Linked DNA regions of Homo sapiens. The protein of the gene in region 4 interacts with the protein of the main gene of each other region in a pairwise test. Each region holds a gene or a part of one and is shown on either strand. Other genes may lie near its edges.

What was found. Proteins that work in one complex are often made in the same cells at the same time.
Region 1: the proteins of RMDN3 (region 4) and CYB561D2 interact in binary tests that used the Homo sapiens proteins (3 or more experiments, as listed by UniProt).
Region 2: the proteins of RMDN3 (region 4) and TF interact in binary tests that used the Homo sapiens proteins (3 or more experiments, as listed by UniProt).
Region 3: the proteins of RMDN3 (region 4) and WNK1 interact in a two-hybrid assay, tested with the Homo sapiens proteins (one large-scale study listed by IntAct).

What each region holds. Positions count from the first base shown.
Region 1 is NC_000003.12:50,349,648-50,353,661, reverse strand, and holds the start of CYB561D2 (transmembrane reductase CYB561D2), read right to left. Parts: upstream 2,801-4,014; 5' UTR 2,678-2,800; exon of another isoform or gene 2,254-2,677; 5' UTR 2,229-2,253; coding exon 2,102-2,228; intron 1,654-2,101; coding exon 1,616-1,653; intron 422-1,615; coding exon 1-421. Other genes in the region: GATOR1 complex protein NPRL2, read left to right, coding at 3,185-3,340, 3,640-3,731, 3,829-3,997. UniProt on the Homo sapiens protein: Transmembrane reductase that may use ascorbate as an electron donor in the cytoplasm and transfer electrons across endoplasmic reticulum membranes to reduce monodehydro-L-ascorbate radical and iron cations Fe(3+) in the lumen of that compartment.
Region 2 is NC_000003.12:133,770,393-133,773,892, reverse strand, and holds part of TF (serotransferrin isoform 1 precursor), read right to left. Parts: intron 3,386-3,500; coding exon 3,321-3,385; intron 1-3,320. UniProt on the Homo sapiens protein: Transferrins are iron binding transport proteins which can bind two Fe(3+) ions in association with the binding of an anion, usually bicarbonate.
Region 3 is NC_000012.12:881,579-885,078, forward strand, and holds part of WNK1 (serine/threonine-protein kinase WNK1), read left to right. Parts: intron 1-113; coding exon 114-211; intron 212-332; coding exon 333-495; intron 496-1,364; coding exon 1,365-1,481; intron 1,482-1,816; coding exon 1,817-1,990; intron 1,991-2,195; coding exon 2,196-2,253; intron 2,254-2,542; coding exon 2,543-2,665; intron 2,666-3,070; coding exon 3,071-3,500. UniProt on the Homo sapiens protein: Serine/threonine-protein kinase component of the WNK1-SPAK/OSR1 kinase cascade, which acts as a key regulator of blood pressure and regulatory volume increase by promoting ion influx.
Region 4 is NC_000015.10:40,752,455-40,756,665, forward strand, and holds the start of RMDN3 (regulator of microtubule dynamics protein 3), read right to left. Parts: upstream 2,801-4,211; 5' UTR 2,629-2,800; intron 2,337-2,628; 5' UTR 2,330-2,336; coding exon 2,143-2,329; intron 1-2,142.

The DNA of each region.
Region 1 (4,014 bases), on a different chromosome or scaffold from region 4:
CAGCCAGGTACCAGGCTGCACCAGTGACAGAGGCAGTGAACCAGAGTGAGCACATGCCCAGCAAGAGGCTGGCACTACCCAGCAGGTAGCCCACCAGCCCAGAAGTAGCATGGTATAGCTTGAGCTTCGCCAGGGGCCATCGGGGCAGCAGCTTGGGGTAGAGCAGCCCCACCCCACCTGAGCACTGCAGCCCTGCCCACAGCACAGCCAGCAGCCCTGCCTGCCCATGCCGCGTAACCAGGTGGGCTTTGCCAAGCTGCTCTTTGTGGAGGATGACAAGGCCGAGGCCCAGCAGTGCACACAGCAGGGCCAGCAGCTGCAGCACCCAGTGGCAGCGTGCTCGGCCTTTCCGTGAGAGGGAGTGCAGCAGCGAACTCTCAGGAGAAAACACCAGTAGTGCCTCGGTCATCAGGAAGGAGAACTGAGGAAACAGGGGATGGGAAGCTCAAGTGAGGGTGCTGCCCCAGAAGAGGAGAAGAGGGCTTTATGTAACCCTTAGCTGCCAGTGAGTCTGGGCTGATTCCCCTTTTTCTTTCTCTCCCCACTGACAAGACTATCCATTTGGTGGGGCAAGAGTGGAAAACCCCATCTGGGATGATATATGTGCCCTGAATAATCTCCACACTTCCTCCTAGGTGCCAGTCTGAAATGTCATCTGTCGTATGTTACCAAGCAAACACAGGGTTTGAGATGTGGCAGTTATAAATGATTCACAAGCTTTGTTTCCCTAACGTGGGGCTGGATACAATTTCTTGGCAAGAGCTGGCCACATGGGTGCACTGTTTCAGGGAAAGTTAGGTGCATCACCAGAAATTAAAGTAAAAAGGGACAGAGGTACATCCAAATGCAATGTCTCAGCTTTCTGCCTAGAGGTGGGTGAAGCCTCATTGTGCTTAGACAAATCTTACCCATTTGACCTGGGTCCTGGGTCTTCATTACTCTGATTCAAGTCTCTTTTTTTTTTTTTTTTTTTTTTTGGAGATAGTCTCTCTCTGTCACCCAGGCTGGAGTGCAGTGGCCTGATCTCGGCTCACTGCAATCTCCGCCTTCCGGGTTCAAGCAATTCTCCTGCCTCAGGCTCCTGAGTAACTGGGATTACAGGCACCTGCCACCACACCCAGCTAATTTTTGGTTTTTTGGGGGGTTTTTTTGTTTTTGGGTTTTTTTTTTTTTTTGGGACAGAGCCTCGCTCTGTCGCCTAGGTTAGAGGTTAGAGTGCAGTGGCGCAATCTTGGCTCACTGCAACCTCCGTCTCCTGGGTTCATGCGATTCTCCTGCCTCAGCCTCCCGAGTAGCTGGGACTACAGGCGCGTGCCACCATGCCCGGCTAATTTTTTGTATTTTTAGTAGAGACGGGGTTTCACCATGTTGGCCAAGATGGTCTCGATCTCCTGACCTCAGGTGATGTGCCCGCCTCGGCCTCTAAGTGCTGGGATTACAGGCATGAGCCACCGTGCCCAGCCTCAAGTCTGAAATATATACCATGGGCAGGAGTAGTTGGAGCATGCAACTCTTCCAAACAGATATTAAATGTGGACAAAGATTCAGAGGCTGCCAGGGCCACCAACCATGCCCATGCTCCCACCCCTAAGAACTGCCCAGGCCCACTACTTACAGCCAAAGACATAAGCACCGGGTGCCAGGAGAACAGGCCTGGAATGAGAAGAGGAGGCCTCATGGGGCTGAGGCAAGAAGAAACCAGCCATACCAATCCTTAAGGGTTGAGGAATACCAGCAGCCCATCACCCAAGGAGGTGCTGCCAAACTGTGAGCCCCTTCTTGCTCTGCAACAAGCTGACCCCACACCTATCCTCTCTTCCTGGCCTCTTCCTGGATCAGAGGCCATGCTTTGCCACTCCTCTGGCAGTCCTCCCTCCTTCCCTTACACCTCCTGAGAGGCAGCCAAATGGAGCACCCAGAGAAGGAAAGACAAACCAGGAATTCTGTGTGCCCTGGCCATACCTACCTGCTCCACCTCACTCATCGCTCCAGCACAGAATTCCCTCAACCAGCCAGGCCTGTTCCCGGAAGTCCCACTGCCCTTCCTCCCCAGGAACAGTGGCCCTTCCCTTCCCAGAAGTCAGCTATGAATTCTACTTACTGGAGCCAGGCCTGGCAAGCACAGCCACAAAGATGGTAAAGCCCAGGGCCACAAGGTGGGCGGCAGCGCCAGAAGCAGTACGCAGAGCTCGGTAGATGTGTGACTCGGTCTCCGCAGAAAGGGCCATCGTCAGCCGTGCTAGTGGTTGTAGCCTGAAAGCATAGTAGCGTGGGCCAGGATCTCAGGTGCCCACTGTTCACTCCTCACTGGAGAAAAGGCTGCAAGGCAGGAATGCCACCCTCTTCCAATAAGTTATGGTAGGAAAGAACAGTACCAAGACCAGCACCAGGAATGGTCACAACATGCCAGTCGACGGCCGGCGGCCTGTCAACGTGTACCCATGTCTGAACTGGTACCAATCGCTGGCCCGCCTTCCAGGTAGGAGGCGCAAAGCCATGTAAGACTACAAATCCCAGCGTGTACCACGCCGTCGCCGGCAGTAGAGCCAGCTGGGAGGGCGCGGAGCACTATGGAAATTGTAGTTCCCTGCTGCGGTCCCAGTTACAGCGTGAATCCCTTAGCGCACCGCCTCCCCAAGTGCTGCCAGCATGCTGCCCCTCCACGCTAGGGACTTGCCTGCCTCTGCCGCAGCGCAGATCTGATGCGGTGGTTTCCTCCAAAGAAAGCGGGATACTCCGGGCCCTGCCGCGCGCACCGCCGCTCCGTCACGGAGCCGCTTTACTTCCGGGTGCGACGTCTACCCACCCAGGACTTCCTGGGACGAGCCGTCCCCCGCCCCAGCCACGCCTCTGAGTCGCGCTGCGCAGGCGCCATTGGGCAGAGGGATTGGCAAGCTTGCGTGCCCCAGCGACACAGGCCTCGAGGCTGTCTCTGACAAGTGTTCACAGGAGGTGGGGACGCCTCTGCGCGAGGAACGAGGAGCTACGGGCCTGGGCCCGGTTATTGCCATGGGCAGCGGCTGCCGCATCGAATGCATATTCTTCAGCGAGTTCCACCCCACGCTGGGACCCAAGATCACCTATCAGGTGCCACCCGGGCTCGCGGGACTGGGCGGGAAGAGGGACGTTCTCGAGAGCTCAACTGGCTGCCTGAAGGCAGTAGTTTCCCGTGCTGCACGCAGGCATGCTGCTTCATTCGCAGACAACTGTGAGGCTAGAGGATAGTCAGACCCAGGCCCCCGGCTCCCAATGTGGCAGGGAAGACATACGTCACATTGGCAGTGTTTGTAGGATATCGGGCTGTAGGGATCCGGTTGGGGGGTTCCAGGTCCCACAGAAGGTGAGTTGGGTGACCCATGAGTATCCCTGAACTGAGTGAAGAGTAAATGATGCATAGGAAGTTTAGGTAAGGCAGGAGAAAGTGTTCCAGGTAGAGGGAACAGCATATGCAGAAGCCAGGAAGGAGGTGAGATCATAGCGTATGTTTGGAAACAGAAAGAAGTAATAGGCCTGAGTGGATGGGAGAGAGGGGAACGCTGGAGAAGAGGACTTGGGCTTGGGGGGCATGAGGAGGTCACCATTTGTACTACACCCAGTACAGATGTCCACTGAGGGGCCCATTGCCACTCCCCTCCCCAGGTCCCTGAAGACTTCATCTCCCGAGAGCTGTTTGACACAGTCCAAGTGTACATCATCACCAAGCCAGAGCTGCAGAACAAGCTTATCACTGTGTGAGACCCTAGCTCGGGGTGAGCGGTGGGTGGCAGGGGTTGTCCCAGGAGGAGGAAGGGACAGGCTTGGGGGCCTGACTGTGTTCCAATTATCCAGCACAGCTATGGAAAAGAAGCTGATCGGCTGTCCTGTGTGCATCGAACACAAGAAGTACAGCCGCAATGCTCTCCTCTTCAACCTGGGCTTCGTGTGTGATGCCCAGGCCAAGACCTGCGCCCTCGAGCCCATTGTTAAAAAGCTGGCTGGCTATCTGACCACACTAGAGGTCTGCAATGAGATGGG
Region 2 (3,500 bases), on a different chromosome or scaffold from region 4:
TAAGGGAGAGAGGAGACCGCCTCTGGAACCATCTCAGGCAGTAGGGTATGTGAGGCACTCAGGCAAGAGGAAAAGTGGGTTTGTGAGGACTTATGAATGGAAATTGATGTTAATGAATGAGCCAGAACCTAAAGGTAGAAAATTAAGAAAAATCAAATGGGAGGTGATTCAGTCTGGCTAGGAGGGCATCTAGAAGGGCATGTTAAAAATATGCTTTTTCAATAAAAATAATACACGTTTATTGGTGGAAATTTATAAAATGCCACGTAAGTATTGGGAAGAAAATTTTGAAGCATTTGTAATTTCATAGTCTACGCCTTCAAAATTGGTACATTTCTAACATTCTTTTTCCTACACACACCTATAATATGCACATACACACACACACACACACACACACACACACAAATTGTGATAAAAGAGCCCATGTGGGCTGAGCGCGGTGGGTCACACCTGTAATCCCAGCACTTTTGAGAGGCCGAGGTGGGCGGATCATGAGGCCAAGAGATGGAGACCATCCTGGCCAACATGGTGAAACCCCGTCTCTACTAAAAATACAAAAATTAGCTGGTCGTGGTGGTGCACGCCTGTAGTCCCAGCTACTTGGGAGGCTGAGGCAGGAGAATCACTTAAATCTGGGAGGCGGAGTTTGCAGTGAGCTGAGATCACATCACTGCACTCCAGCCTAGCAACAAAGTGAGACTCCATCTCAAAAAGAAAAAAAAGAAAAAAAAAAAGCCCACGTGGTTTTGTGTCTTCCTTCTTGTATATACCATAGCACTTAAGACAGATTTTGGAGGAGGGAGAGAGGGGGGCAAGAGTTGAAAAGCTACCTGTTGTGTGCTATGCTCACTACCTGGGTGACAGGTTCAATCATACCGCAAACCTCAGCATCATGCAGTATACCATGTAACAAACCTGCATATGTACCCTCAATCTAAAATATAAGTTGAAAAAGCAACAAATTAATAACAGAAGAAGGTAAGAAGGTGCAAAATATAAGTATGATGAATCAGACATGATGTGACTTACATTTAGTAATATTTATCAGGAATGTGATATTAAGTCAGGGGTATTAGACCAGTAGTTCCCAAACTTACAATACATCAAAATTACTTTGGCTCTTAAAAATCATGTTGTCTACCTTAAATACACACAATTATTTCAAAATTTAGTTTGAAAAAAGACACGTTTTGAAGAAATAAGATATTGACTGACAGACTTAATCTAGGCCTGATGGGCAGGGAGTATAGCAGGATTCTCTATAAGGATAGAGGCTGGGAGAAGAGGAGGGAACGTTGACAGAAAGATGAGGACAGTTGAGTTGTATATGGATTGTATATATACAACTACAATATATGAGGACATCCATATACACACGTAAAAAAATACAATTGCAATGCCAATGTACTCTCTACATAAAAGTGACACCTTGGGAAATAGACTGGAATGGAATTGAGATTGGATGTCAGGCCTCCTATCTTAATTCTATGCAGGAGGGAAGAATTTTTGAGTCATTGCAAAGAGTAAGAGAGTCAAAGCTTAAAGAAGGGAGCTCTACTCAGAAAAGTACCAAAAGAAATCAAGGGTGGCAAAGAGCCAAGCTTAGGGTAACACTCTCTTAAAGGAAAAAGCAATAATACGAGGGAAGAAAGGAAAATTAGTCAACCCAATATTTCTGCAAACAAATTCTTAGCAACTGCTGTGTACTATGTGCTACACTAGGTTCTGGGAATATAAGATGAAGAAAAAGAGCTCAAAGAGTTTCTGTAGCCAAAGTGTATTACAGAGTGTGGTGAATTCAATCATAATGGCAATATGAACAGAGGAGTCTTCTTGTAGGACAGGGTATGCCATCTGGGAAGGCTTCCTGGAGGGGCTGGTGCTGAGCCGGTTCATTCTGGATGAGTTGCCCAGGAAAAGTGAGGAGTTGGGGAATGAACATGAGAGAAGGCAGGGAAGTATTCACAGCTTGAATTCCAGTGGGCTCTGCTAGCACTTAGTGATACTGAGGGGTCAGGTGTGGAGTGCTCAGTCTGGCCAATGTTTGTTTTGCTTTGTTTTGTTTGTTTTTATTAATATTATGGCTGTCCAACGTTCACCCACAAGTTAACACCCATTGATTCTTTTTTTTTTTTTTTTTTTTTTTGAGACGGAGTCTCGCTCTGTCGCCCAGGCCGGACTGCGGACTGCAGTGGCGCAATCTCGGCTCACTGCAAGCTCCGCTTCCCAGGTTCACGCCATTCTCCTGCCTCAGCCTCCCGAGTAGCTGGGACTACAGGCGCCCACCACCGCGCCCGGCTAATTTTTTGTATTTTTAGTAGAGACGGGGTTTCACCTTGTTGGCCAGGATGGTCTCGATCTCCTGACCTCATGATCCACCCGCCTCGGCCTCCCAAAGTTCTGGGATTACAGGCGTGAGCCACTGCGCCCGGCTTAACACCCATTGATTCTTGCTTGAATCAGTTATCAATATATTGGTTGCCAAGTGATAGTTTTCTAACTCTATCATTCCTTCCACATTGATTAGTTTTCCCTTCTTCATTTGTTTAATCAGTATTGCCTCATGCATTCTTATTTCTTTCAATGGGCTATTATCCCTTACTGCTATCATTATTTATTTTAATGCTCAAAATTCCCAGACTTGGCAACAGGAGATCCTTCAAATTGGTTCTTGTATGCTTTGAGTGTCCCATCACTGTTTGAGCACTTCAGTGTGTTGTTCTAGGCTCAGCATCTATTTTTCCTGCCCCAGCCCTGAAGTCAGCTATTTTTCCAAGGAGTTCTGGTTCCTTTTAGTAAAGAAGAGTACTTACAAGCCAATATCTTGGTGCTTACTCCTGCTGGTATGCCATTGCCTCTAGGCCTTCTCAATGGACACAACCCAGAAGTACAGTAAATAGCTATAAAAGGCATTACTGGGATAACTGACAACAGTTAAATGTGGACTGTGGACGTGACGAGTATTAAATCCACATAATGTAAAAGATCCTGATCTTGGTAATCATACTGTGGGTATGCAAGAGATTGTCTTATTCTTAGGAAATAGGCACTGAAGTATTTAGGGGAAAGGAGCACAAGGCTTGCAGCTGTGGGAGTGTGTGTTGGGGAGGATTTAGGGCCATTGGGGGCCCCATAATCCTGATCATTCTGCGCACTCAGGTGAACATGTCTCTCTTCACTGAGCAGACAGACTGAGAATCAGAGCTTTGAAGTCTGACAGTGTACATAATACTTCCACAAAGGCATCCCTGAATACAAGTGAATACCAGTGACCAGGATCTAGTGATCTAGGGGGACAGAGGAGCAGGTGCACTTACCCCCAGTGTTCTGTGGGACAGTCTGGTGTTTCACAAAGGCCACATCTCCCTTCTCAACCAGACACCTGCAGAGGTCCAGAAGTGGGAGAGAAAAAAAAAGGCGGTCAGAGTGACTTATCTGTCATTCAGGGGGCTACCTTATAGATTCAGGACAGCCATCTGAAAACAGCAACTGTAACT
Region 3 (3,500 bases), on a different chromosome or scaffold from region 4:
AGTGCTTCTAGGACGTAGTGGGGAGGGATAAGGAAAAAAATAAGTAGATTATTGGGGATAGTGAATGATAAATCTATTACTACCGAGATTTGAGTTATCTTTTCGATTCACAGAGTACTCAGGGAGTCTCTCAGGTTGCTCCTGCAGAGCCAGTTGCAGTAGCACAGACCCAAGCTACCCAGCCGACCACTTTGGCTTCCTCTGTAGACAGGTACGTAAAACTAGAATTCTCCTTCCTTGACTGGTAAATAAGACGGTATGAAACGCCAAACTGTCAGACCTTTAAATCTCATATTATAAACTGCACTTTTTTTTCTTTTTAAATTTCAAAGTGCACATTCAGATGTTGCTTCAGGTATGAGTGATGGCAATGAGAACGTCCCATCTTCCAGTGGAAGGCATGAAGGAAGAACTACAAAACGGCATTACCGAAAATCTGTAAGGAGTCGCTCTCGACATGAAAAAACTTCACGCCCAAAATTAAGAATTTTGAATGTAAGTATTCCTAATTTGTGAGTTTCATGTTGTTAAAGGAATTTGACACTGAAAAAGATTTTAGAGGTCATCAAATCCAAACCACTCACTTCATAAAATAAAGATAACTATCTGTGTGTGACAGATAATTTTTTTTTTTTTTAGACGGAGTCTCGCTCTGTCGCCCAGGCTGGAGTGCAGTGGCATGATCTCTTCTCACTGTGATTGCAGTGCCTCCTGGGTTCAAGCGATTCTCCTGCCTCAGCCTCCCAAGTAGCTGGGACTACAGACACGTGCCACCACGCACGGCTAGTTTTTGTATTTTTAGTAGAGACAGGGTTTCACCATATTGGTCAGGCTGGTTTCAAACTCCTGACCTCAGGTGACTCACCTGCCTCAGCCTCCCAAACCACTGGGATTACAGGCACCCAGCCAGATAATTTATATAGTACTCTTCTCATTTCATGCCCACAGTCTCTTTGACTTAAATATCACATTTTTAGAAAAATGAAAAGGTAGTTCATAAAGCTATGATAGGGCCAGCAGTTAATATCATTTAAATATTTCTTAAGGCTTAGATGAATTGATGAATGTATAGGATCTTATAATTAGCCAAATGATATTCTTACATTCCATATTTCTATGATAAAGCACTACTTATCTTTTAGAAAAAGAATAGAGAGTTTTAGTAAGTAGCTCAAAGGCTAACGTCTTCTCAAAGATTTTTCTTGCTACCAGTTTAAGAGACAAAGTACTAGTGCTCCAAGGAACAGCGATAACACTATGCTTCCTTAGACATAAAGTCAAGTGCTAATCTGCATTGCTTTTCTGAAATTCAGTAATAAAGCTGAATATGGTCTTTGGAGATGATGTACCTTTTTTCTTTTTAGGTTTCAAATAAAGGAGACCGAGTAGTAGAATGTCAATTAGAGACTCATAATAGGAAAATGGTTACATTCAAATTTGACCTAGATGGTGACAACCCCGAGGAGATAGCAACAATTATGGTACGTCTGCATTTGGAGTTCTAGGTTTTTCCTTAGTACTTGATCTTAATAGCCATTGCTCTAGGCAAATATGCCATATTTTATAATCCATGTTTTTTTAAAGTTATGCATTTACTTCAATGTGAATAAAACTATCACACCCAACCTGTGATTTAGTGATGTTTTTGTCTAGGCTATGTCTAACTAGATATTGAAGTTCTTAAAAAGAGAAGAGCTAACTTGAGTACAAAATAAATAAAAATATAGGTAAGTATGCAGATAGGACAGAAGTCATAAAAGTGACATAAAGTTTGAGAAATGACACTAATTAGACTGACATCACATTTCTTTTACAGGTGAACAATGACTTTATTCTAGCAATAGAGAGAGAGTCGTTTGTGGATCAAGTGCGAGAAATTATTGAAAAAGCTGATGAAATGCTCAGTGAGGATGTCAGTGTGGAACCAGAGGGTGATCAGGGATTGGAGAGTCTACAAGGAAAGGATGACTATGGCTTTTCAGGTTCTCAGGTAGGTTCACCACTCCCATAGTGAAACTTTGTTGATTTAAAATATTTTCATAGTTCTAAATTTGCTATGCAAAATGTCCAGTGATATCACCTGACACCCATGACCGACAACAAACTTTTATGTTCTCTTCACATGTGGCAGTTTGCTTTGCCTAGTCATTGAGATTGCATTTGAGAATGTATTTAATCACTTTTGTTTGTTGTAGAAATTGGAAGGAGAGTTCAAACAACCAATTCCTGCGTCTTCCATGCCACAGCAAATAGGTGAATTTATTTTCTTTCCTTGTTTTTACCTTTGACTTAAGAAGCCATTAGCCGAGGGTGGTGGCAGGCTTCTGTAGTCCCAGCTACTCAGGAGGCCGAGGCACGAGAATCGCTTGAACCCAGGAGGCGGAGGTTGCAGTGAGCTGAGATCGCGCCACTGCACTCCAGCCTGGGTGAGAGAATGAGACCGTGCCTCAAAAAAAGCAGTTGTATGTGCCAATAATGAAGTCTAACAATATTTATAATAATAATGCTATTAAGTTACGTTTGTTTGTTTGTTTTTGACCAGGCATTCCTACCAGTTCTTTAACTCAAGTTGTTCATTCTGCGGGAAGGCGGTTTATAGTGAGTCCTGTGCCAGAAAGCCGATTACGAGAATCAAAAGTTTTCCCCAGTGAAATAACAGATACAGGTAAGGGATTGATTCTGCCACATTGTTATGTAAATTCTACAGTGCCTCTGCTATGTTGAAAGCTTAATCATAAAGCAGTAATTTATGATGACACAGATAATAAAAAAGAATAGAAAACTGAAGTTATAACCAACAGATAAACATATGGGAGAGGGAAATAGATGAAGAATACAGAGAATTACAGAAAAAGCCAAGAAGCACGGCCATACCAAGATATAGTCTGTATAATAGATATTGTAGTATGTGTTTATTTCTGCACTTAGTACTGTTGTCTATGTTTTAAGATTACTCCATATTTTTTATCAAAAACAGATATTTATAGGAGCTGACTTAGGCTAGCAGACAATCTTTTGAATCCATCCTTTTAAAATCAGCTGATTCTTATCTTTTTGTATTCCTTTGCAGTTGCTGCCTCTACAGCTCAGAGCCCTGGAATGAACTTGTCTCACTCTGCATCATCCCTTAGTCTACAACAGGCCTTTTCTGAACTTAGACGTGCCCAAATGACAGAAGGACCCAACACAGCACCTCCAAACTTTAGTCATACAGGACCAACATTTCCAGTAGTACCTCCTTTCTTAAGTAGCATTGCTGGAGTCCCAACCACAGCAGCAGCCACAGCACCAGTCCCTGCAACAAGCAGCCCTCCTAATGACATTTCCACATCAGTAATTCAGTCTGAGGTTACAGTGCCCACTGAAGAGGGGATTGCTGGAGTTGCCACCAGCACAGGTGTGGTAACTTCAGGTGGTCTCCCCATACCACCTGTGTCTGAATCACCAGTACTTTCCAGCGTAGTTTCAAGTATCACAATACCTGCAGTTGTCTCAATATC
Region 4 (4,211 bases):
GAACCTGAAGGAGGACAGCTGTCCTGCTAGAGTTAAAAAAAAACAAAAACCTTCACCTCACCATATAGTGCCCAATACCAAGGAGTCAATACCAACCACATAGCAAAACTAAAACTAAAACTGAGCTCCCTCAAATTCTGATCTCTCACTTCACAAATAATAGTAGGGAAAACTTGGAGTTTCTCCCAGAACTTCATTTAGTATATCAGAGAAGGACTAGGAGAAAGGGGGCAGTTATTAAGAGAAAAGGTACACCAGAAAAAGCCCATCCAAACTGCCTCAGAAAGACACCGTCACTAAGCCCTGCTGACCCAACCCTAGATCTCAGAGTAAATTCCAGCAGTGAAATGCTAGCAAAGTGACAGCCACCTATGGTAACTGAACTGGAAAATGCAAAAACAAAAAAGAAACCAGAGAGGCAGGACCCTACAATACGGCAAGCATAAATCCCTTCTTAAAGGAAATCTGGTAAAAAACTAGGCCAGGCCACAACATACATCCAATAATGCTCAAGAATGTAGTGCAAGAAAGATCCCTGGCAATGTGGCCACTTTCTTCTAATCTCAGAAGAAACACTACTGCGAAGCAATTACAAACAAAATACAAGGGAAGGAAGCACACTCCAATACTAGATTACCACAAGATTATAAAATGCTGACAATCATTTGCAATCTAAGCTGATAGCTCTTTGAAGACTCCAAAACTAACTTTTCCAAACCATCTAACATTGGCAATCAGAGAAAACACTCATTTCCAATTAGCATGGGAGTGAGATAATGTAAACGCTCCTCTTGGCCAGGTGTGGTGGCTCACGCCTGTAATCCCAGCACTTTAGGAGGCCGAGGCCAGGAGTTGGAGACCAGCCTGGCCAACATGGGGAAACCCCATCTTTACTAAAAATACAAAAATTAGCTGGGCATGGTGGCACGCACCTGTGATCCCAGCTACTCGGGAGGCTGAGGCACGAGAATCACTTGAACCCAGGGAGGCGGAGGTTGCAGTGAGCCAAGATCATGCCACTGCACTCCAGCCTGGGCAACAGAGCGAGACTCCATCTCAAAAAAAAGAAAAGAAAAGAAAAAAGAAAAGAAAAGAAAAAAAACACTCCTCTTGCACAAAGATGGTAGTAGTTTGAACCAGCCCTAGATCCTTTGCTCAAATGAATTGACAAATCTGCAAGAACTACTCATTTCAGCTGTACAGGCTGCCAGCCACATTCAGCTTCAATTGCATTAAGCGTGCTCCTAGCCCTATGCCGTAGAAAGTCCACTGGACCAGGTGACCAGGCCCAACCTTGCCACTTAATCTGTGACAGCCTCAGGAAAGTTATACCATCTTTTTGAATCTTGGTTTCCTCATAGGAGGGATAAAAAGAAAAAAAAACTTGAATGAGATAGTTGCCAAGTTGTCTTGATAGTTGCCAAGTTGTCTTCAAATTCTAATATATGATTTAATACATAAGCCTCAAGACTTTTAATCCCTACAAGATTATTCTTTTTGCCCTCTTTTGGACTCTTCCTCTACTTATTACACACCTCACCCAACACTAAGCAAGTGCCTTTAATACCCACATAGCACTATTGTGGCCAGAACTAAAAGTGAAAGTTAAACAGTCTTTTTGAAATATACTTTCTTGTGAGTACAGGCGAAAGAGTAGAGAAAACCACGACTGCTTTTTTTTTTTTTTTTTTTTTGAGACAGAGTCCCACTCTGTCACCCAGGCTGGAGTGCAGTGGCGCAACCTCAGCTCACTGCGGCCTCCGCCTACCAGGTTCAAGCGATTCTCGTGCCTCAGCCTCCCCAGTAGCTGGGACTACAGGCCGCGCCACCACGCCCGGCTAATTTTTGTATTTTTAGTAGAGATGGGGTTTCACCATGTTGACATCTGGTTGAACGTTGGCCAGGCTGGTCTTGAACTCCTGACCTCAGGTGATCCGCCCGCCTCGGCCTCCCAAAGTGCTGGGATTACAGGCGTGAGCCACCGCGCCCAGCCCGACGACTGCTTTTTCAACAAGCTTCCAAAAAAGTGAAACCCTAAAGCACTTCTCTCCGTTACCCTGTCCCACAGTCTCCACCGAAAGCAGCCCAGACCTCAGGCCCATTAGTCTGCAGTGACCGCGGTCTCAGGAGACGGGCTCCTACCGTGGCGTCCGGGATCTGAAGTCTGCGTATAGTCCAGGGAGTTGGGCAGGCTCTGGCTGCGGCCATGACGCTGGGTCCGTTTCCATCGCTGGCTGTAAAGGAGGCACAGGAATCCAAGGCCGGCGGCGGTACCCAGCAACAGTCCCAGCCCGGCACGGGCACCACCCAGGGCTCCCAGTCTAGACATGCTGCACCTGCGGCCAGCAGAAGTCACCGGGAGCAGGCAGGCGGGCGGGCGGGCGGGGGTAAGGAGAGAGAGAGATTCGTGAACCCGGTAAACCCACCCTCAAGGCTGAACCCCGGCAGGTATCCCCTTGCCCAAACCCTGAGCTCTCGACTACGTGCACCCCAGTCTGAACCCTAAGGCTTCCTCCAGCCTCCTGGGCCCCACTGCCTCTCTTCTCACCCAGCCTGGACGTAGCCGCCCCTCCAGTACACCCCCCGACCCGGGTCACAGAGTCCGGCTTCTGGGCCTTCAACCCCCACCTCAGCCTCACGACACTGCAGACCACAAACCCGGCGCCCTGGCTGCAAACTCCTGGCCTTCCGCCGCGGCCCCCGAAGGCGCTCTGGCCTGGCAGGAGATCCACTCAGACCCTTACCCGGCCGCCAGCCACCATGGCAGCAGCCGCCGCGGGCTCACGCTGTCAGTGACCGTGACGTCAGGCAGGCGGCGCCAGGTGCTCGGCGCCCTGCGGGAAGGCGCAGAGAGATGACCGCGCCGGCCCCGCCCCTTGTCTGTTTCCCTCAGGGGCGGGGCCACGGGCGCCGCCGGAGGGGCGGAGTCAGCACAGAGCGCGAAAGGAAAGCAAGAAGGGGCCCAAGACAGGGGAAAGGCGGGAAGGCAGGGAGACTTCTTGGGCGGACGCTCGCGCAGTCACCCTCACCGTCCGGCAGCCAGGCCTCCATTTCCCTCCGGTCACACCGGCTTAACTTGCTGCTCCCGGAATACGCTCAGCATATTCACACTTTCTACCTGCGCTTCTGCCTGGACCTCCCCTCTGTACCTGGAAAACGTCACGCTCTCCCCACATTTTATTTTTATTTTTATTTTGTAGAGACTGGGTCCCGCTCTCCTGGTCTCTCAAAGTGCGATCCGCCCGCCTCGGGCTCCCAAAGTGCGTGAGCCGCCGCACCCGGCCATAAATCTTAAACCTAACGTGCTGTCTTATAATTCTGTTTTACTCTTGTAATTGTATGCAACTTCTTATAATTGTGGCAACTAAAAAGACCGATTTTATGGACTATGATAACAATTTTATTGTGAACATTTCTTAAGAGTTAAAATTTAGTTTAGTGAAAGAAATATCTAGGCCAGTCCTCCCAATACCCTTGACTAGATCTTATATTTATTTACCCTTTAATTGTGAGATATTGTATACATATAAGAATACAGGAGGCCGGCCGTGGTGGCACGTGACTGTAGTCACAGATACTCTGGGGGCTGAGATGGGAGGATCACTTGAGCCCAGGTCGTCGAGGCTGCAGTGAGCCATGATCACTCTGGGCAACAGAAGTCAGGATATCGAGGCCACCCAGGCCAACCTGGCGAAACTCCGTCTCTACTAAAAGTACAAAAATTAGCTGGGCATGGTGGTGCACGCCTGTAATCCCAGCTACTCGGGAGGCTGAGGCAGGAGAATTGCTTGAACCCAGGAGGCAGAGGTTGCAGTGAGCCGAGATCTCGCCACTGTACTCCAGCTTGGGCAACAGAGTGAGGCCTCCTCTCAAAACAAATAAACAAAAACAACAACAACAAAAAATATATTTATATATATATAAAGTATATATATATATATACACTTTATTTTGGAGGAAATAAAAATTTCCTCTGGAAACCTTCCCAGATCACCACCTTGGTGAAATTAAGCTTTTCACCCTGCTTTGCTCCTGTGGCTCTATTGCCTCCATTATACTTTTTTTTTTTTTTTAGACGGAGTTTCGCTCTTTTCGCCCATGCTGGAATGCAGTGGTGCGATCTCGGCTCACTGCAACCTCCTCCCCCGCCCCTGGGTTCAAGCAATTCTCCTGCCTCAGCCTCCGGAGTAGCTGGAATTACAGGCTTGCAC